Regions from separate parts of the Homo sapiens genome. Here region 2 is linked to region 1. The links come from fine-mapping of genetic effects on gene expression. A gene starts in region 1. The other region holds a variant in brackets. All regions are shown on one strand. Distances are between the middles of the regions.

Region 1 (11,661 bases):
TACAGCAAGACCCTGTCTCAATAAATACATAAATAAACTAGATTCTCACCCTCTTAACTATTTTAGGTTGACAAAATGAACAGCCAGATTAAGAGATACATAGGGTGAGGAGGTCCAGAAGGGTCCCAAGTGTAAAAACTTCCATCCTCATGAAGTTGGGGTGAACTGCCTTTTAGACACGTAGATGTATTTTTCTTCAACTTCTTGGAAGCCCCCTGCACTCGATCCTTCTGGTTTTTATAGAGGCCTCATTACACAGTCACGACTCATTAAGTCATTGGCCATTGGTGGCCTTTAGTCCCTCTTCTCTCCCTGGAAGTGGAGGGTAGGGCTATGAGTTCCAACGCTCTGGGCACTTGGTTCACGTTTGGTTTATACGTCACCTTTTAACCAATGCCCTCTTTGGCTATTATATCCAAAATTACTGCTTTCCCTTCAAAGTTAACCTGTCTCTGGTGATACCCTTTCACTTATTCCCCACTTCACCCAGTAATAATCTTGTCTGGGCACTTCTTCAGAATATCTGCGAGCTTTAGGGCAGGAGAGTACTCTGATCTGATCTGATTGATGACTTAGAAAGAAAACTGACATGTAGTGTGAGACTGTTTTGGGACTAGAGGCTATAAATGAGGGTTATTCTTTAGAATTGCTTCCCTATCATTCTCCCATTTTAAATAAGCATCCCTTGATGTGGAAATATATCTACATTTTAGACGGAGTCTCACTCTGGAGTCTCCCAGGCTGGATGGCAGTGGCACCATCTTGGCTCACTGCAACCTCTGCCTCCCAGGTTCAAGCAATTCTCCTGTCTCAGCCTCCCAAGTAGCTAGGATTACAGGCATAAGCCACTGCACCTGGCCCAAAAAAAGATTTAAATTTTTAATTTTTGTGGGTACATAGTATATATATTTTTATGGGATACATGAGATGTTTTGATACAGGCATGCAGTGTGAAACAATCACATCATGGAGAATGGGGTATTCATCTCCTCAAGCATTTATCCTTTGTGTTACAAACAATCCAATTACGATCTTCTGGTTATTTAAAAACGTACAATTGTTATTATTAACTACAGTCACCCTGTTGTGCTATCAAATAGTAGGCTTTATTCATTCTTTCTAGTTTTTGGTAGCCTTTAACCATCCCCATCTCCTTCCCAACCCCCGACTACCCTTCCCAGCCTCTGGTAACTATCCTTCTACACTCTGTGACCATGAGTTCAATTGTTTTGATTTTTAGATCCGACAAATAAGTGAGAACATGTAATGTTTGTACTTCTGTGCCTGGCTTATTTCAGTTAACACTAATGATTTCCTGTTCCATCCATGTTGCTGAAAATGACAGGATCTTTTTTTTTTTTTTTGAGATGGAGTCTTGCTCTGTCACCAGGCTGGAGCGCAGTGGCGCAATCTCAGCTCACTGCAACCGCTGCCTCCCACGTTCAAGTGATTCTCCTGCCTCAGCCTCCCAAATAGCTGGGACTAGAGGCGTGCACCACCATGCCCAGCTAATTTTTGTATTTTTAGTAGAGACAGGGTTTCACCATGTTGGCCAGGATGGTCTTGATCTCTTGACCTTGTGATCCGCCCACCTCGGCTTCCCAAAGTGCTGGGATTACAGGTGGGAGCCACTGCGCCTGGCCTGGATCTTGTTTGTTTTAAGGCTAAATAGTACTCTATTGTGTATATGTAACACATTTTCTTTATCCATTCATTTGTTGATGAACACTTAGGTTGCTTCTAAATCTTAGCTATTGTGAATAGTGCTGCAACAAACATTGGAGTGCAGGTATCTCTTTGAAATACTGATTTCCGTTTTTTTGGGTCTATACCCAGCAATGGGATTGCTGGATCACATGGTAGCTCTAGTTCTAGTTTTCTGAGGAACCTCCAAACCATTCTCCATAGTGGTTGTACTAATTTACATTCCCACCAACAGTGTATGAGGGTTCCCTTTTCTCTACATCCTTGCCAACATTTGTTATTGTCTGTCTTTTGCATAGAAGCCATTTTAACTGGAGTGAGATGATATCCCATTGACTACTCCTGCTCTTTTTTTGGTTTCCATTGGCATGGAATATCTTTTTCCAACCCTTTATTTTTAGTTTATGTGTGTCTTTATAGGTGTAGTGTGTTTCTTATAGGCAACATATCAATGGGTCTTGTTTTTTCACCCATTCGGCCACTCTGTGTCTTTTTATTGAAGAGTTTAGTCCATCTACATTTGATATTACCATTGATAAGAACTTATTCTTGCCAGAAGCGGTGGCTCACACCTGTAATCCCAGCACTTTGGGAGGTTGAGATGGGTGGATCATGAGGTCAGGAGTTCGAGACCGGCCTGGCCAACATGGTGAAACCCCGTCTCTACTAAAAATACAAAATTAGCTGGGCTTGGTGGCGCATGGCTGTAATCCCAGCTATTCAGGAGGCTGAGGCAGGAGAATCGCTTGAACTCAGGAGGCAAAGGTTGCAGTGAGCTGAGACTGTGCCACTGTACTCCAGCCTGGACAACAAGAGCGAAACTCTGTCTCAAAAAAAAAAAAAAAAGAACTTATTCCTGTCATTTTATTTGTTTTCTAATTGTTCTGTGGTCTTGTTTCCTTCCTGTGTTTTCCTCTAGTGAAAGTGATTTTCTCTGATATTATTTAGTTTCCTGCCTTTTATTTTTTGTGTATCCATTGTATGTTTTTTGGTTTTAGGCTAACATGAGGCTTGCAAATACTATCTTATGACCCATTATTATAACCTGATAACAATTTAACACTATTTACATAAACAAACAAGCAAAAAAAAAAAAACTAACAAAAACTCTATGTCTTAACTTCATCTCTGTTTTTTAACTTTTTGCTATTTCTATTTATATCTTATATAGTCTATGTCTTGAAAAGTTGTCACAGTTATTATTTTTGATTGGTTCATCATTTAGTCTTTCTACTTAGAATAAGTAGTTTCTACACCATGGTTATAGTGTTATAATGTTCTCTATTTTTCTGTTTATGTCCTATTACCAGTGATTTTGTACCTTCAGATGATTTATTGCTCATTAATGTCTTTTTCTTTCTCATTGAAGTATTCCCTTTAGCATTTCTTGAAGGACAGGTCTGGTGTTGAAATTCCTCAGCTTTTGTCAGGGAAACCTTTATTTATCCTTGATCTTTGGGAGTTTGATTATTGAATGCTTTGAGGTAGTCTTCTTCGGGTTAAATCTGTTTGGTGTTCTATAACCTTCTTGGACTTGGATATTGGTATCTTTCTCTAAGTTTGAGGAGTTCTCAGTTATTATCCCTTTGAATAAACTTTCTACATCAATCTCTTTTTCTACCTCCTCTGTAAGGTCAATAACTCTTAGATTTGCCCTTTTTAGGCTATTTTCTAGATCCTGTAGGCATGCTTCATTATTTTTTATTCCTTTTTCTTTTGTCTCCCTGATCATGTATTTTCAAATAGCCTGTCTTCAAGCTCACTAATTCTTTCTTCTGCTTGAATAATTCTGCTACTAAAAGACTCGAGGCTGGGTGTGGTGGCTCACACCTGTAATCCCAGAACTTTGAGAGGCTGAAGCAGATAGATCACTTGAGCCCAGGAGTTCAAGACCAGCCTGGGCAACATAGCAAAACTCTATCTCTACAAAAAATACAAGCCGAGCATGGTGGTACACACCTGTAGTCTCAGCTTCTCAGGGGACTGAGGCAGGAAGACTGCTTGAGCCTGTGAGGCTGAGGCTGTAGTGAGCTGATATCCTGCCACTGCACTCCAGCCTCAGTAACAGAGTATGGCCTTACCTCAAAAAAAAAAAAAACAAACAAAAAAAGATTCTGATGCTTTCTTCAGTATGCTAATTACATTTTTCAGCTCCAGAATTTCTGCTTCTTTTTAATTATTTCGATTTATTTGTTAAGTTTATCTGATAGAATTCTGAATTCCTTCTTTCCATTATCTTGAATTTCTTTGAGTTTCTTCAACATGGCTATTTTGAATTCTGTCTGAAAGGTCTCATATGTCTGTTTCTCTAGGACTGGTCTCTGGTGGTTTCTTTAGTTCATTTGGTGAGGTCATGTTTTCCTGGATGGTGCTGATGCTATAGATATTCTTCACTCTCTGGGCATTGAAGAGTTGGATATTATCAGTCTCCAGTGTCTGGGCTTGTTTGTACTTGTCCTTCTTGGGAAGGCTTTCCAGGTATTTCAAAGGACTTCACTACTGTGATCTAAGCTGTATCTGCTTTAGGGGGCACCTCAAGCCTAGTAACGCTGTGGTTCTTGCTGACTTGTAGAGGTACCACCTTGGTGTTCATGGGTAAGATCCAAGGGAATTCCCTGGATTACCAGGCAGAAACTCTTGTTCTCTTCCCTTACATTCTTTAAACACAAACAGTCTCTCTCTCTGTGCTGAGCTGCCTGGAGCTGGGGGAGGGATTACCCCGAACCCAATAACACTGTAGTTCTCTGAAGTTCTTGCAGACTCTTAGGGGTACCACCTTGATGGTCAAGGACAGCATCTGGGAGAAATTCTCTGGATTACCAGGCAAAGACTCTTGTTCTCTTACCTTACTTTCTCCCAAACAAATGGAATTTCTCTCTCTGTTCTGAGCCACATAAAGCTGGGAGTGGAGTGACAGAAGTACCTCTGTGGCCACCCCCACTATGACTGGACTGGGTTAGAGATGAAGCCAGCATAGCATTGGGTCTCACCCAAGACCTGCTGTAACCACTCCCTGGCTACTGCTTATGTTCACTCAAGGCCCTGGGGCTCTACAATTAGCAGATGGCAAAGCCATCCAGGCGTGTGTCCTTCCCTTCAGGGTGGCGAGTTCCCCCAGGCCCTGGGTAGGTCCAGATGTACAGTCCAGGAGTCAGAGACTAGAGTAAAAAATCTCAGAAGTCTACCTGGTGTTATACTGTATTGCAGCTGAGCTGGCTCTCAAACCGTAAGACACAGTCCTTCCTACTCTTCCCTTTCCTTCCCAAAGGGAGACTAGCCTCACTCTGTAACCACCATCACCACAGGCCACAGGGAGTACTGCCAGACTTCCACGGATGTTTCCTTAAGGCCCACGGCCTCTCAAGTCAGTGTGTGGTGAATGCTGTCTGGGCAGAGACTCAACCGTCAGGGCAGAAGGCTCTACTCTGGACCAGGGCAGGTCAGAAATGCCATTTAGGAGTCAAGTCCTGGAATCAGGAACCCCAAGGGCCCACTTGGTGCTCTACCCCTCTGTGGCCATGCTGGCATCTGAAGCCAGCAAGTCTCAGAGGTTCACCCAAGGTCCTCAACATAGTATCTGGGTATATCTGCTGGTCATTTAGGGCCCAAGGGCTCTTCAGTTAGAAGGTGATGAATACTGCCAGGACTAAGTCCTTCTCAGGGGACTTATCCTTTCTGGCAGTTTATCTGCTCTTGGTCACGACCTCCTAGTCCATCATACACATCTGAATAACTTTCAATCTGAAAGCAGTGAAGAAGGGATCAAGAGGCCCTTCCATCCAGAGTCCCCTTTGTGACTATATACATTTTTTAATGTCTAACTCAGTCATATGGTTTTGCTCTGTGTCCCCACCCAAATCTCATCTTGAATTGTACTCTGATAATTCCCACGTGTTGTGGGAGGGACCCAGTGGGAGATCACTGAATCATGGGGGTGGTTTCTCCCACGCTGTTCTTGTGGTAGTCTCATGAGATCTGATGGTTTTATAAGGAGAAACTCCTTTCGGTTGTCTCTTTTTGCCTGCTGCCATCCACATTAAGATGTGACTTGCTCCTCCTTGCCTTCCACCATGATTGTGAGGCCTCCTCAGCCATGTGGAACTGTAAACCCAATAAACCTCTTTCTTTTATAAATTGCCCAGTCTCAGCTATGTCTTTATTAGCAGTGTGTAAACGGACTAATACACTCAGCATCTAAGGTCCATAAAGCAATCAATATGTGTGTCTGACACACCTTTACCTGTTTACAGGAGCTTAATACGGGTCCTGATTTAGCCAAAATGTCCAAGAACATGTGCATTCAATGTTAGGGGATTCATGGATCCCTTTAGGTAGGATTGCTGGATAAAATACAGGTGTCCAGTTAAATGTGAGTTTCAGATGAACAACAAAGTTTTTTGTTGTTGTTGTTTTCTGAGACAGGGTCTCATTCTGCCACCCAGGCTGGAGTGCAGTGGCATGATCATGGCTCACTCAACATTCTGGGCTCAAGTAATCCTCCTGCCTCAGCCTCCTGAGTAGCTAGGACTACAGGTGCACACCACCACATGTGGCTATTTTTTTTTTGTAGAGATGGGGTCTTGCTATGTTGCCCAGGCTGGTCACAAATAAGTTTTTAGTATAAATATGTCCCCTGCAATATTTGCAGAGATAATAATTATTCTTTTATGTGGGGCAGGGATCCTGATCTTCAAAAGCGCCAGTGTCTAAGAAGTGATGAAGGATTTGCTGAATGAACTGATACACTTGAGTGGCTCCGAAGGCATGAGCAAAACTATTGCACAGAACATACTTACATTTCAAAACCATTTGTTGTTTATCTGACATTAAGATGTGACTGGGCACTTGTAATTTTTTTTTTCTTTTTTTTGAGACGGAGTCTCGCTCTGTTGCCCAGGCTGGAGTGCAGTGGCGCGATCCTGGCTCACTGCAAGCTCCGCCTCCCGGGTTCACGCCATTCTCCTGCCTCAGCCTCCCGAGTAGCTGGGACTACAGGCGCCCGCCACCACGGGCTAATTTTTTGTATTTTTAGTAAAGACGGGGTTTCACCGTGTTAGCCAGGATGGTCTCGATCTCCTGACCTCGTGATCCACCCGCCTCGGCCTCCCAAGTGCTGAGATTACAGGTGTGAGCCACCGCGCCCAGCCTTGTAGTTTTTTACTTGCTAAACTGGCAATCTGATCTTGAGGCCATCCACAGCTTTCCTAGGTTCACAGTATAGAGTAAGAATTTATATAGACTGAAGAAGATTAAGAGTGTTTATTTTTTGTGGAATTATTTAACCACTTAACACTGAAGTACCAGGTGAAGGGTAAATTGAAATAACTCTTTCCACTTCTTTTAGCTCTAAATATCAATCAGGACATTATTATTATGGCTGTTTTCTGGACTTACATCGTTATAGAGTGACTATGAGTTTGATAGTGTCACCAACAATTATGGCCAATAATTTCCATGGTAAATTCCTAGAACAGAAAGATGTTGCATCAAATTCTTGAAATCGCAGACTTAGGAAATTAAGTTACATAAACAGCAGATGTTCAGGCTGAGGAAGGAAAGAAGCTGAAACAAGTACTCCCAATTATTCAACAATCCCTTGAAGCCGCCACTGTAACTCTGGGAATTGAAATACCATTAAGTCCTATCACGGCCACCACTTAGCCTTTTTTCTCTTACTATTATTTGTAATTCCATAATCAAGCTAGTTTTCCTACGAAGTTCTGGGGCAGGAGTTTTCTTTTTTCGGAAATTTCATTTGGATAAAGAAACATGGTCAAAAAGTTACAACGGTGCAAATGGTTATACAAAGAAAAACAAGTCTCTCTTCTATCGTTACCCCTAGTTCCTGGACCGCGGGTTCTTAACTTGGGTTAGGAACTGCAGTCTAAGGGTTTCTAGAGTAATGTGAATTTTCTCAATGCATAATTTTCAATGTACAGATAATTTTGCTCGTTTGTGGGGAGAGGATCCAAACTTTTACCTGAGCCTCAAAAGGGTCCGTGATGCAGAGAACCTGCTGAAGTAACCGATGGCCCCGAGTGACTCGGAACAGGGGGCGCAGATATCCTGTAATAATTTGTCCCCGTGTGAAAAGTCTACCCCTATCCACTCCACTCCACTCCACTCCGGGGCCGCTTGGAAGGGACGCTCTCCGTGGGAGGCATCCAGCTCTTCCTAAGTTTTCCGCCTGCCGCATTCCTCCCCTCCGGCGCGCCGGCGTGCGCTTACGTCATGACGCCGCACACGCAGCCCCGCCCCTGCAGAGATCAGCGCTGGGACGGAACCCGGGTTCCTCTCGAACCGGGATTGTGACGCTTTTGGCCTGGCTGGCCGCTGTTTTCTGTCCCACTTTTTACTCGGGCCTGCGTCCGCTGCCGCCGTCCCTCAGTTTGCCCCCGGAGGAGGCAGGGCGGCCGTGCCTTCTGCCGTGCGCCCGCGTGGCTGCCACCGCCCCTCCGAATCCTCCGGGGCCGCAGAGGGGTTCGCTACGGAGGGAGGTGGGGGCCTTCGGGAGGAGGAGGCGGAGGAGGCGGAGGAGGAGGGAAGGAAGATGGCGGCCGTGGAACTAGAGTGGATCCCAGAGACTCTCTATAACACCGCCATCTCCGCTGTCGTGGACAACTACATCCGCTCCCGCCGAGACATCCGCTCCTTGCCCGAGAACATCCAGTTTGATGTTTACTACAAGGTATGCGCCGTGGGCCTCCTCTCTGCTCTCCTCCAGCAACCCCGGGGGCCGCACCCCCTTCCACGTCTGCGAACCCCCGCAGTTAACCCCTCACCCCTTCCGGCAGACTTGCCTCCCGAAACGTCTGGTGCGGTGTCTGCATTGCCAGTGGAGAAGCACCCCATCTCCCTATGCCCTGTCTCTTAAGCTTTGGGGCCTTGAAGTAATCTTGGGGAGTCTTGCTCCCTGTTGGTGTTCCCTTCTACACAGTGGCCCTCTTGGGTAGGCCTTTTGCGTGGACTTACTCTATCGCGCCCCTGTCCCACCTAGTCCTTTCCTTCTAGCCCGTATCTTCAGGATATTTTCCATCCTCTCCTTCCAATTAAGTGTCAGCATCAGCTGGACTTTTTTCCGTGCTCCTCCCCCCACCCATTCCTACTTTCTCATCTCGCCGCCTTCCTTCCCCGAGTGTTTTGGTGTTTTTGCTTCGTGTTCCTTCGTTTCTCCTTTCTTTTCCCAATTGGGAAGGAGTTAGGGATTATTGGAAATAATCTGTGTGTTTTATTTGCATATTCTTTAAAGCTTTGATTTTTTTGTGGGAGAGGAGGGGCTCTATACTTGAATTAGGGATTTTGTGAAAATGGGAGTGCTGATCAACTGTTTGAAGAGGACAGGGAGAGATCTTTACTGAAAGAAAAAAACACTTTAGATTATGTTCCTGTGTTTGAAAGTTGCAATCTTGCAGCATTCTTAAATCACTCCCCCTCAAAAATCTGAACAGCAAGTCTCCCAAGCCACTCTCCAAGGAGTTTCAAGGGTAAGTGTCCTTAGATGTGGACTATTTTTGCAGTGTTTTCAGAGTGTGGAGAACTTTATGGACTCAGAGCCTGCCCTTTTCTCTCCCCCACATTTGAATGTGAACACTGGATTTATTATTCAGTCTTCCTTGTCTTGAATCCGCGTCGATAACTCCTAGTGTCCAGTAGCCACCCATGCAAAATGTGACTAAAAGTAGAATGTAATTTATTTTTTAGACCTTAAATACTTCCTCTTGATCTGTAAGTTGGCTGGAACAGTGTAAACTGATATTTTAACAGATGTTTATGTTCTTACGTATGTACAGTGTTTTGTGGCAGTTGTTTTATTGGGAAGATTGCCTGCTTTCTCCACCCCTAGATTTTTTTTTTTTTTTTTTTTTTTTTTTCAGAATTAGCAGTTGATGGGCTGCGTTCTACTAAATCCAGCTGCTTTGCACCAATTCTAACAATTAAAGTGGGGTTTCCCCCCTAAATATTTGGAGAAGATTCATTTAGGTCATGCGTATTATTATTTTGGATTTCGAGAAAAAGCTCCCTTTTTTCCTAATCCCTTTGATACATTGATTTACTTTTGTGTATTCTAAGGAAATTTTGTTCATTTAAGATACATTCCTCCCCAGGAAGGACAAATTAGATTTGTCTTTCTCAGCCTGGGAAACTGCAGCTTTGTGTGTGCTCTCTGTCCATTTTATTAAATCATGTGTAATCTTGTACCTCATATGTAATCTCTCAGAGGAAATCATTGGGAATGTAATCCAAGTGTATTTACTAGTTGAATTCGTTCAAAATACTTGAATATCTTTTAGTAACTTTCACTTCTAATTGAAGCTTTTCATTTGAAGATTATTAGTATGAATAGATGGTGCTTTTGTTAGAATTTCTGTTTCACATAGTTCACACAGTTTTAATATTGCTCCTTTTTGGTACACTTTTACTTCTTAATAGTTGTATGCTTATTGGGAGTATGGCACTGTGCTAAGATGAGGGAAGTGTTAAACATGTGCCTGTAACTATGTTGTGCTTTTATGTGTTATTTTGTTTAATCTTCAGAATTAAACTGTGAAGTAGAGTACAGTATAACCTTGCTTTATTGGTGAGAAAGTTAAGTAATTTAATTAAGGTCTCAAACCTGATATTTAGTTCCTGAGTTCCTTGCTCTTTTACTTAGATATCTATCTTAAGATAGTAGATTATTTTAATGAAAGATATTATAACACTAATTTTTTTATTAGCTTCTATGGAAGTGGAGTGAAAGTCAGTCCCAGGACTCTATTCTAATCTTTAATGGAGATGTAAGAAGAAATTATTCTTTTTATTAAAATTTAAAAAAAATAGAGATGGGGTCTCGCTGTTTTGCCCAAGCTGGTCTTGAACTCCTGGGCTCAAGCTATCCTCCTGCCTCAGCCTACTGAGTAGCTGAGACTACAGGCATATGCCACCGCACCTGACTTTTCTTCCTTTTAAACACTATTAGCATATACATATAAGAAACTTTTTTTGTGGAGACAGGATCTTGCTCTGTTGCCCAGGCTGGAGTGCAGTTGTGATCATAGCTCACCGCAACCTTGAACCCCTGGGCTTAAGCAGTCTTTCCATCTCAGCCTCCTGAGTAGCTGGAACTACAGGTGTATGCCACCCATGCCTAGCTAATTTTTTTTTTTTTAATTTTTAGTATAGATGAGGTCTTGATATATTGCCCAGGCTGGAAAAACTTTTTAAAGCAATATAACTGCACACATAAATATAAGATACTCACCCCCTGCCCAACTTGTGAAAATTTTAGGAGGCTTACTGTTTCCAATTTCCAATTTTCTGCACTTTAAAGCCAAGGAGAAACTCATAATTACATCTCTCTTGCAGTCCAAATTTCCATCAGTAGGCATAGTCATAGACAAAATTGGAGTATTTGTGGAATCAAATTTCCCCATTCTGCTTGTTTGGTGTACTACAGTATGACTGTGTTAATTTTTGTAATAGCTTCAGATAAAGGCACAATCGTAAAGCATTAGGAGATGGGGTTATGGAATGAATGGAAGGTAAAGAAGCAGGAATGTTGACTGCTGTATAAGCAGGGAAGGGAGAGCATAGAAAGGGTAAAATATGAAATGTTTTTTCTTTTTTTTAAAAAAAAAAAAGAATGGAAGACACTAGAATATATTTGTTGGCTGAGTGGCAGAAACCAAGAGAATGAGGTTGAGTATCCAAGTGTGGTGGGAAATAAGTTACGGAGCAAAGTCCCTGAGCAGGAACATGAGTTGATGAGTCTTGCCTGTTTTTGGTCTTTCCTCCTTCACCGTGCATAAATTAAGGTATTATCCTTATATTGGAGTTGGGGAAAGAACTCTTCTTCTAAGATCAGAACAAAAGAATTAAAGATGTAAAGGCGCAGGGCTCACACTCATAATTCCAACACTTTGGGAAGCTGAAGCAGAAGGATCGCTTGAGCACAGGAGTTCGAGACCAGCCTAGGCA
Region 2 (11,661 bases), 91 kb after region 1:
GGGGATTTTAGTTTAATAGGCTCAAAATAAAAAGTTCTTAATGGAACAGTTAAAAACAAAACACTAACAATCTTTACGTGAAAATCCCCACTAATAGTGCCACAATAATTTCTATAGAAATATCTAAGGTCATTAAATAGATTTTTGAAGACGGTTCTTCATTGTGTCAGGATGACCTTTCATATCATTCTCACCAACTTGTAGTGCCCACCGTTATTTGTAACTATTAAACCATACTAAGTATGTTTGTAACCAGCATTGTGATATATTCTGTACTTGTATTGCTAAAAATGAATTATTGACCTAATAAATATAGTGTTCCTGCATTCATAGTGTATCTGTTTCCAATTTGGTTTTGATTGCTTTTGGTTGGGATTAAGCTTTGCAGACTGTTTTTATTAGAGAACAGTGTGAGAGAAACTGTTGGAACTAGAACAAAAGTGCTCTTGTTCAAGAAAATTAAGATGTGTGGCAGAGGAGGCGCATGGTAACATCTGGAGATTGTGCTGATGAAAAGCACTTGGAAAAAGACAAAGCACTGCATTAATGCAAAGGGATTTTTTAGTCTTTACAAAAGTATACCATTCTTTTAAGAATCCTCTCACTCTAAAGGCTGAAGATGAATGATGAGACCTGGTAAAGTTCTGCTGGAATAGTGAAGAAAAGCCTAGATTGGAGTTTCAGTTCCAGCTGTCTCTGAACTGGAAGATTCTGAGTTACGTCATTCCAGCCCTCTTTGTGTTTTATTTCCTCACATGAATAAGGGGGTAAAATCAGGTCTTTAAAAAACTTCACCATGAAACAGCATAAATCTGAAGGACTCAGAAACCAGTTGTAGGAAACGAAGCCATATTTTTAAAGATTAGGAAGAAAATATTGTAGACAAAATCCCACCATCACTTGGAATATAGTCAGCACCAGCTTCACTGCCTGCCACCTTCAGTGATACTGAATTTAAAAATGTTTCTTTTTACATCTCCATGACTGAACCTCTGAACATGCGATTTCGTCGTCCTTGTGGAATGCCATTTCCTGGATAGTGTTGCTCATCTGTCAAGCTCAAAGATCAAGGGAACCCTTCCCTTAAAGTTTGAGTTGCCACTTGGTATTAATGCAGCATTTTAGAGCTTTGTGAAAGCAATTACCATATGGCCATATAACTTACAGTGTTAAGACTCTTTCCAACTTGTAAACTTTGCTGATCTGTGTATTCAACATAGAGTTTATCCTGTGACAGATACTGTCCTGAGTGTGTTAGCAAACCACACTCAGTTACTTTAAGCGCACATTTCTATAGACAAATGCCCATTAGGATGGCTATTACAGAAAGTAAGTGTTGGCAAGGATGTGCAGAAATGAGAGCCCTTGTGCACTGTTGACAGGAATGTAAAATGCTGCATCTGCTGTGAAAAACTATCACCTGTGCTCAAAAAATTAAAAACAATTACTCTTATGATCCAGCAATTCAACTTCTGGGTATAGATCCAAAAGAATTGAAAGGGTCTTGAACAGATATTTATATACCCGTGTAGCAGCATTATTTGCAGTAGCCAAAAGCGAAAGCAACCTAAATGTCTTAACAATGCATGAACAGATAAATATGGCAGGCCAGGCGTGGTGGCTCATGTGTATTCCTAACTCTGGGAGGCAGGCCGACGCAGGAGGATTATTTGAGCCCAGGAGTTCGAGACCAGCCTGGGCAACAAGGTGAAATGCTGTCTCTACAAAAAATACAAAAAAATAATTAGCTGGGCGTGGTGGCACACACCTGTAGTCCCAGCTACTCAGGAGGCTGAGGTGGGAGGATTGCTTGAGCCCAGGAGGTTGAGGCTGAGTGAGCCGTGATCACACCACACTGCACTCCAGCCTGGGCAAGAGAATGAGAACCTGTTGATAAATACGGCATATACATACAGTGGGATATTATTCAGCCATAAGAATATACGAAATTCTGACATAAGCTATAATGTGGACAAACCTTGAAGACATTATGCTAAGTGAAATAAGACAGTCACAAAGAGTATGATACTATTAGATGATGCATCTAGAGTAGTCAAATTCATAGAAGCAGAAAGTAGGATAGTGATTGCCAGGAGCTGGGGATAGGGGAAAATGGGGAGTAGTTGCCTAATGCAGGGGTCCCCAACCCCCGGGGATCTGTGGCCTGTCAGGCACTGGGCCACGTGGCAGGAGGTGAGCAGTGGGTGGGTGAACGAGCAGAGCTTCTGTATTTACAGCCCATCCCCATCACTTGCCTGAGCTCCACCTCCTGTCAGATCAGTGGCAGCATTAGGTGAACCCTATTGTGAACTGCACGTGTGAGGGGTCTAGGTTATGCACTTCCTATGAGAATCTAATGCCTGATGATCTGTCACTGTCTCCCATCACCCCCAGATGGGACTGTCTAGTACAGGAAAACAAGCTCAGGGCTCCCACTGATTCTACATTATGGTGAGTTGTATAATTATTTCATTATATATTACAATGTAATAGTAATAGAAATAAAGTGCACAGTAAATGTAATATGCTTGAGGCCAGGCACAGTGGCTCACACCTGTAATCCCAGCACTCTAGAAGGCCAAGGCAGGCATATCACTTGAGCTCAGGAGTTCGAGACCTGAACATAGCAAAACCTCGTCTCTACCAAAAAATACAAAAAATTAGCTGGGTCTGGTGGTACATGCCTGTGGTCCCAGCTGCTCAGGAGGCTGAGGTGGGAGGGTTGCTTGAGCCTGGGAGGTTGAGGCTGCAGTGAGACGTGATTGTGCCACTGCACCCCAGCCCGGATGACACAGTGAGACCCTGTCTCAATTTTTTAAAAAAATTTAATGCATTTAAATCATCTCAAAAGCACCCCACCTCTCCCTGCTTCCGATCTGTGGAAAAACTGTCTTCCACAAAGCCAACCCCTGGTGACAAAAAGGTTGGGGACCACTGCACTAATGGATCTAGAGTTTGTGTTTTGTGTGATGCAAAAGTTCTGGAGATTGGTTTCACAACACTGTGAAAATTAATACTAGTGCATTTTACATATAAAATGGTTCAGACAGGGCTGGGCGCAGTGGCTCATGCCTGTAATCCCAGCACTCTGGGAGACTGAGGCGGGTTGATCACCTGAGATCAGGAGTTTGAGACCAGCCTGACCAACATGGTGAAACCCCATCTCTACTAAAAATACAAAAATTAGCCGGGTGTGGTGGCGGGCGCCTGTAGTCCCAGCTACTAGGGAGGCTGAGACAGGAGAATTGCTTGAACCCAGGATGCGGAGGTTGCAGTGAGCTGAGATTGTGCCACTGCACTCCAGCCTGGGTGACAGAGCAAGACTCCACCTAAAAAAAAAGAAAAAAAAAAAAAGATATATATATGTATTGTTCAGACAGTAAACTTTATGTGTATTTTATAACTATATATTATATATTTTATATATAATATATAGTTCAGACAATAAATTTTGTGTATTTTACAACTATATATATAATATATATTGTTCAGACAGTAAACTTTATGTGTATTTTACAATAATTTTTAAAAATCAGACTTCACTTTGCACAAGCAGTTAAATATGATGCATAAGTTTGAAAAAAATCTGTGAATGATCACTTCCAGAAAGTGCCTTGAAAAACCTCTAGTGTAATTTATTTTTGAATTAGAACTTTTGTGTAACAAGTGAAAGTTGATTTGCATTTAAATTCTTTCCAAGTACAGAATCAGGCTTTTTCATTCCTGCTGCTCTTTAAATAGTTTGAGTATTTTTCTTTCCTGTTACGTAATGACTGATTATTTCTCTCTATGAGCTAAGAATGACCCAGATGTTGCCTCCTGTTTCACTTAGCTATGAGGTGCGTGTTTCTGTTTTGTTTTTAGACAGGTTCTCACTGTTGCCCAGGCTGGTTTCAAACTCCTGGATTCAAGCAATCCTTCTGCCTCAGCCTCCTGAGTAGCTGGGATTACAGGCTTGAGCCACTGTGCCTGGCTCAAGAATAGTTATTTTTCATTTCTAAACGTTCTATTTTTTTTCAAGTCTGTATACTCTTTTCCTATCACATATTCTCATGCCTGTAATTCCAGCACTTTGGGAGGCCGAAGCAGGTGGATTGCTTGATGTCAGGAGTTTGAGACCAGCCTGGGCAACATGGCGAGAATCCGTGTCTACAAAAAAACATTTTTAAAGTTAGCCAGGCATGATGGTACATGCCTGTAGTCCCGGCTACTCAAGAGGCTGAGGCAGAAGGGTCACTTGAGCCCAGGAAATCGAGGCTGCAGTGAGCTATTATCATGTCACTGCACTTCAGGCTGGGTGACAGAGTGAGACCCTGTCTCAAAAAAAAAAAAAAAAAAAAAAAGGCTCGGCGCGGTGGATCACGTCTGTAATCCCAGCACTTTGGGAGACCGAGGCGGCCAGATCACGAGGTCAGGAGAGCGAAACCATCCTGGCTAACATGGCAAAACCCCGTCTCTACTAAAAATACAAAAAAATTAGCCAGGCATGGTGGCGGGCGCCTGTAGTCCCAGCTACTGGGGAGGCTGAGGCAGGAGAATGGCATGAACCCAGGAGGTGGAGCTTGCAGTGAGCCGAGATAGCACCACTGCACTCCAGCCTGGCGACAGAGCAAGACTCTGTCTCAAAAAAAAAAAAAAAAAAAAAAAAAGCAAATGTCTGTTTACAAAAACAAGAAAAATCAAAAAGACAGAGCCTTGTGTGTGGAGGAGTCAAAAAGCTTGGGCAGTCAGCATCTCAACTCAACTAAGTCAGCCCCTAAGCCCCTGTTTTCTTTTTCTTTCTTCTTCTTCTTGTTTTTTTTTTTTTTTTTTTTTGAGACAGAGTCTCGCTCCGTCACCCAGGCTACAGTGCAGTGGCACAATCTCGGGTCGCTGCAACCTCTGCCTCCTGGGTTCAAGCAATTCTCCTGCCTCAGCCTACTGAGTAGCTGGGATTACATGCACGCACCGCCAAGCCTGGCCAATTTTTGTATTTTTAGTACAGATGGGATTTTGCCGTGTTAGCTAGGCTGGTCTCGAACTACTGACCTCAAGTGATCCACCGACCTTGGTCTCCCAAAGTGCTGGGATTACACATCTGAGCCACCAAGCCTGGCCATAGCCTGTTTTCTTTGTAATGGGGAGAAGGAGTTTCCCTCACAAGTTTGACACAAAAATCCAGTGAGAATGGATGCAAAACTCTGCTATTTCTCTTCAGTTACATATATTTGTGATAATTATTATAAAGAGGAAACTTCGGGTGACTCCTGAGAGACTGGGGTGGGAGTGGGTCAGGCAGTAGTTAGTCACTACATTCGCGGTTAGGAGCCTCTTCCATTTAAAACTCGAAACCACCATCAGAGTGAACAGGCAACCTACAGAATGGGAGAAAATTTTTGCAACCTACTCATCTGACAAAGGGCTAATAGCCAGAATCTACAATGAACTCAAACAAATTTACAAGAAAAAAACAAACAACCCCATCAAAAAGTAGGCAAAGGATATGAACGGACACTTCTCAAAAGAAGACATTTATGCAGCCAAAAAACACATGAAAAAATGCTCATCATCACTGGCCATCAGAGAAATGCAAATCAAAACCACAATGAGATACCATCTCACACCAGTTAGAATGGCGATCATTAAAAAGTCAGGAAACAGCTGGGCACGGTGGCTCAAGCCTGTAATCCCAGCACTTTGGGAGGCCGAGGCGGGTGGATCACGAGGTCATGAGATTGAGACCATCCTGGCTAACACGGTGAAACCCCGTCTCTACTAAAAATACAAAAATTAGCCGGGCACCATTGGGCGCCTGTAGTCCCAGCTACTCTGGAGGCTGAGGCAGGAGAATGGCGTGAACCCGGGAGGCGGAGCTTGCAGTGAGCCAAGATTGCGCCACTGCACTCCAGCCTGGGTGACAGAGACTCCGTCTCAAAAAAAAAAAACAAAAAAAACTGAAAGTAAAACTTTAGGGAAAGTACCCTTTATTCTCTAAGGAAAAGGACCCTTCTCGAAGGCTCCGATAGTGAGGCACTTTCTCTAGGATGAGCCTCACCCCTAAGGCAGCATAGGCCAAGGTATGATTTGGGGATTTCCACCAAGGCTCCCCACTTCCCAATAGCCTCTCCAACAACCTGTTTCTGGTGTTCCCAAGTCCACCATTATACTTTTGGGTAGAGATACTTTTAAAAAATAAAAATTCTAGAAGAAGTAATACATTTTGGTTAGGCGCAGTGGCTAATGCCTGTAATCCCAGCACTTTGGGAGGCTGAGGTGGGCGGATCACCTGAGGTCAAGAGTTC[G/A]AGACCAGCCTGGACAACATGGTGAAACCCCATCTCTACTAAAAATACAAAAATTAGCTGGGCGTGGTGGCGGGCGCCTGTAATCCCAGCAACTCTGGAGATAGGGCAGGAGAATCGCTTGAACCCGGGAGGCAGAGGTTGTGGTGAGTGGAGATTGCACCACTACACTCCAACCTGGGTGACAGAGTGAGACTGTCTTAAAAAAAAAAAAGAAGAAGAAGAAGGAGAAGAAGTAATACATTTTAGTCTTGAGGGTTATTTCTATCTTGTGAGAAATGAGTGTGTGGGCCAAGAGTAGGTGAAACATATGTCGTTGGTATGTAGGAAGTGCGCTGGCCTGGGGGACCTCAGGTCTGAGTTGTCGTTCCAGTTCTGCCATTGACTTCCTGCACAACCTTGGAGAAGTCGCCTTTCTTCTTGGGCCTCTGTTTTCCCCTCTGAACGAGGAGGTGGTTGGTCAGAATTCTCTGTTTTGGGTTGGTTCATTCATTAAAAGTTTGCTAAGTACCTATTATATGTTGAATACTATTGTAATTGCTTTGGATACAGCAATGAACAGGACAGACAAAAATCTCTAACCCTGTGGAACTTACATTCTAAGGGAAGAAGACAGTTAATAAACAAGAAATACAATAATTGACCGGGTGTGGTGGCTCACGCCTGTAATCTCAGCACTTTGGTAGGCGGAGGCCAGCGGAGTTTGAGACCAGCCTGGACAACATGGTGAAACCCCGTCTCTACTGAAAATACAAAAAAATTAGCCAGGCTTGGTGGCGCGCTCCTGTAAGCCCAGCTACCTGGGAGGCTGAGGCAGGAGAATCGCTTGAACCCGGGAGGCGGAGGTTGCAGTGAGCCGAGACTGCGCCATTGCACTCCAGCCTGGGCGACAGAGCGAGATTCCGTCTAAGGAAAAAAGAAAGAAAGAAAGCTTCAAAACCAAGCCTCACTTGTTGTCCATTTTTGCCTTTATGCGTCCCGATTGTTCTCAAGGTTGATAAACGAACCCCTGGCTCCCTTCTCTCATCTTCATCTTTTGCACACGCTGGTTTGCACATGTTGGTTGAAAGAACAAGGCTGTAGTGTCTCACAATTCCTCTAGGTGGCAGTGCTGCCTTGACTACTGGGGATACTTCGTGTTTTTGGACTGTTCCCAAAACAGCCACATTTCTGAAATCTCTTAGGAGTAGAAAACATTGGAAAGCCCATAGTCATCATGGACACCCTCCAGCCCGGCTTCCCTTCTCTCTGAAATCCTCCCTGCTTTGACAAAACTGTCAGGGTCTAGCCAAGCCAGGCTGGCCCCAGGCCTATGCCTTGGCCGTCTCATCTTGCCACTTCCAGGAGGCGATGACTCTAAGGAGGAAAGAAATGGCGCTTCCTCCCCGCTTCCCCCATTCATGCTTCCCTGAACTCCTTCTTCGAGACTAGATTGATATTCATTTTAGCCTTGTCAGTCTATGACGATACTTACTTCTGAACACAAATCGAGGGAGGGAGGGAGAAGAGTCACACACATCTGCCCTGGCCTCTCCTGCTCCAGGGCAGCCCTGCACCCTATATGCTGCTGCCTCAGGCAGAGCCCTGGAAAATATGTCATTTGTGTTTTTGGGGAATGTTTGGACCTACTTACCCTCCTGGAAATGATAAAAGTTCACAAAATTTGGAGGAAGAAGAGGCGAGAACGATCCCCGAACCGAGCAAAGCCCGCGCGCCGCTGCATCCTGCGCCCAGTGCCTACGTCTCAATGCCATCGTCGCCGCCACCATGACCAAGAGAAAGGCTGAAGGGGATGCTAAAGGAGATAAAGCCAAGACGAAGGACGAACCACAGAAAAGATCCGCGAGGTTGTCTGCTAAACCTGCTTTTCCAAAGCCGGAGCCCAAGCCTAAAATGGCCCCTGCAAAGAAGGGAGAGAAGGTACCCAAAGGGAAAAAGGGAAAAGCTGATGCTGGCAAGGAGGGAATAGCCCTGCAGAAAATGAAGATGCCAAAACAGATCAGGCACAGAAAGCTGAAGGTGCTGGAGATGCCAAGTGAAGTGTGTGCATTTTTGATAACTGTGTACATCTGGTGACTATACAGTTTGAAATACTATTTTTTATCAAGATTTATAAAAATGCAGAATTTTATTTTACTTTTTTTTTTTAAGCTACGTTGTTAGCACACAGAACACTTCATTGTTGTTTTTAGGGGAAGGGGCATACGTCACTAATAGAATGACTCCGAAGCTGGATTGATATGGGGAAAACACCTTTCCCTTCTAGTTTTTAGAGACTTCCTTTTGGCTCCCAGGAGGAGGGATTCCCTGGCTTTGATACACATGGCCACCTTGGCACAAAAGGCTTGCGGTATGGAAAAACAAATTTATTTTTATGTCCTCTTCTCCCTTTCCATCTTTCAGCATAGACTTAACTCCCTTAAGCCCAGACGTCTGTTGGGACCTGACCCCTAGTCATTGGTTACCAGTGTCAGGCAATCTGGACTTTCCAGATGCCACTGAGATGGCACCTGTCAAAAGAGCAGTGGTTCCATTTCTAGATTGTGAATCTTCAGATAAATTCTGCCATTTTCATTTCACTTCCTGAAAGTCAAGGTTGGTTTGTGAAAAGTTAACAGCATGCTGAATGTGAAATATCAACCCTCACTCTAAACTTTCCCTGTTCAGAGCATCAGATGAAGACTTCATTGGGTTTTATACTGGCTTTCTTTTTGGTAGTCCACTGAAGAATCCAGGGAGTTTGAAAGTTGTTGTATACTGTTAATGATTGTCTGCCCATGTCCTGCCTGAAATACCATGACTGTTTATGGAAAGTATCTTTAATAAAGCTGGATACAGTTTGGCTTGGAAAAAAAAAGTTCACAAAATTTGCAGCCTGACAATGCAATAGAAAAAGAAAAACTCGCTCTTGGCTTTCGGCTTGGAGGAGGCCAAGGTGCAACTTTCTTCGGTTGTCCCGAATCCGGGTTCATCTGACACCAGCCGCCTCCACCATGCCGCCAAAGTTCGACCCCAACGAGATCAAAGTCATATACCTGAGGTGCACCGGAGATGCCACTTCTGCCCTGGCCCCCAAGATCGGCCCCCTGGGTCTGTCTCCAAAAAACGTTGGTGGTGACATTGCCAAGGCAACGGGTGACTGGAAGGGCCTGAGGATTACAGTGAAACTGACCATTCAGAACAGACAGGCCCAGATTGAGGTGGTGCCTTCTGCCTCTGCCCTGATCATCAAAGCCCTCAAGGAACCACCAGAGACAGAAAGAAACAGAAAAACATTAAACACAGTGGGAATATCACTTTTGATGAGATCGTCAACCTTGCTCGACAGATGGAGCACCGATCCTTAGCCAGAGAACTCTCTGGAACCATTAAAGAGATCCTGGGGACTGCCCAGTCTCTGTGGGTTGTAATGTTGATGGCCGCCACCCTCATGACATCATAGATGACATCAACAGTGGTGCTGTGGAATGCCCAGCTAGTTAAGCACAAAGGAAAATATTTCAATAAAGGATCATTTGACAACTAGTGAAAAAAAAAGAAAAAGAAAAAGAAAAACTCATTTTCTGGGGAGAAATTCAAGCTGGCAGCAGAAATTGGCATAAGTAAGGAGGAGCCAAATGCTAATCCCCAAGACAATGGGGAAAATGTCTCCAGGGCATGTCAGAGACCTTCTTGGAAGCCCCTCCCATCACAGGCCCAGAGGTCTAGAAGGGAAAAAATGTTTTCCTGGGCCAGGTCCAGGGCTCACCTGCTGTGTGCAGGCTCAGGATTTGGTGCCCTGCATCCCAGCTGCTCCAGCATGGCTAGAAGGGTACAGCTTGGGCCATAGATTCAGAAGGTGCAAGCCACAAACTTTGGCAGCTTCCACATGGTGTTGAGCCTGTGGATGCACAGAAGTCAAGAATTGAGGTTTGGGAACCTCCACTTAGATTTCAGAGGATGAATGGAAATGCTTGAATGTCCAGGCAGAGGTATGCTGTAGGGGTGGAGCCCTCATGGAGAACCTTTCCTAGGGCAGTATGGAAGGAAAATGTAAGGTAGGAGACTCCACACAGAGTTCCCACTGGGGCACTGCCTGGTGGAGCTGTCAGATGAGGCCCACTGCCCTCCAGACCCCAGAATGGTAGATCCACCAACAGCTCACCATGTGCCTGGAAAAGCTGCAGACACTCAATGCCTGTGAAAGCAGCCAGGAGTGGGGCTGTATCCTGCAAAGCCACAGGGCTGGAGCTGCCCAAGACCATGGGAACCTATCTGTTGCATCAGCATGACCTCAGTGTGAGACATGGAGTCAAAAGAGATCATTTTGGAACTTTAATATTTGACTGCCCTGTTGGATTTTGGACTTGTATGGGACCTGTAGTCTCTTCATTTTGCCCAATTTCTCCCGTTTGGAATGGGTGTATTTACCCAATGCCTGCAACCCCATTGTGTCTAGGAAGTTACTAACTTGGCTTTTGATTTTACAGGTTCATAGGCGGAAGGGACTTGCCTTGTCTCAGATGAGATGTTGGACTTGAACTTTTGGGTTAATGCTGAAATGAATTAAAACTTTGGGGAACTGTTGTGAACGCATGATTGGTTTTAAAATGTGAGGATATGAGATTTGGGAAGGGCCGGGGCGGTATGGTATGGTTTGGCTCTGTGTCCCCACCCAAATCTCACCTCTAATTGTAATAATACCCACATGTTGTGGGAGGGACCAAGTGGGAGGTAACTGAATCATGAGGGTGGGTTTTTTTCCATGCTGTTCTCATAAGTCTCATGAGATCTCATGGTTTTATAAAGGGGAGTTCTCCTGTACACACTCTCTTGCCTGCTGCCATGTAAGATGTGACTTTGCTCCTCATTTGCCTTCTGCCATGACTGTGAGGCCTCCCCAGCCACGTGGAACTGAGTCAATTAAACCTCTTTCCTTTATAAATTACCCAGTCTCAGGTATGTCTTTATTAGCAGTGCGAGAAAAGACTGACACATGGGCTCAAGCGATTCTCCCACCTTAGCCTCCCAAATAGCTGGGACTACAGGTGTGCGTCACTATGAACAGCTAATTTTTTTGTAGAGATGGGGTTTTCCCATATCGCCCTGGCTAGTCTGGAACTCCTGAGCTCAAACAAACCTCCACCTCAGCCTCCCAGAGTGCTGGGATTACAGGCATGAGGCACCATGCCCGGACTTAAAGTGTTTTAAACAACAAGTAGAACATGACCCAGGACAAACAAAACACATCAGTAGCCTTACTTTAGTGTGCAGGCTGTGGATTTGTGACTGATGGCTCGAGCCACCATGTTAGCTAAGACCATCGGTGTTGTTTCCTCTTTGGTCTCCTGCCTCTAGCCTCGCTCACTTCCATGCACTTTGCTCACAGTCACCAGAGCATCTC

Alleles and levels. Alleles are on the strand shown, and positions count from the first base shown. SD is a standard deviation of normalised expression in the study named.
As copies of G replace A in region 2, the expression in gastroesophageal junction of the gene that starts at base 7,944 in region 1 goes down (moderate effect, 0.65 SD a copy in GTEx).

What was found. PIP is the estimated chance that this variant, and not a neighbour inherited with it, causes the effect.
Region 2: its variant is fine-mapped to the expression of APPBP2 in gastroesophageal junction (GTEx, PIP 0.99).

The regions. Positions count from the first base shown.
Region 1 is chr17:60,522,525-60,534,185 of GRCh38, reverse strand. It overlaps APPBP2 (amyloid beta precursor protein binding protein 2), which reads left to right and starts at 7,944. Exons shown (of 13, transcript NM_006380.5): 1 at 7,944-8,392. The coding sequence starts at 8,255. RefSeq lists a silencer at 8,115-8,254 and enhancers at 8,335-8,604, 8,325-9,033.
Region 2 is chr17:60,431,823-60,443,483 of GRCh38, reverse strand. APPBP2 (amyloid beta precursor protein binding protein 2) reads left to right here. Exons shown (of 13, transcript NM_006380.5): 13 at 1-326. It also overlaps the pseudogene RPL12P38 and the pseudogene HMGN2P42. Among named protein-coding and RNA genes, the nearest start is that of CHCT1, 15 kb to the right of the region's middle. The variant G/A (reference allele first, on the strand shown) is at 6,282.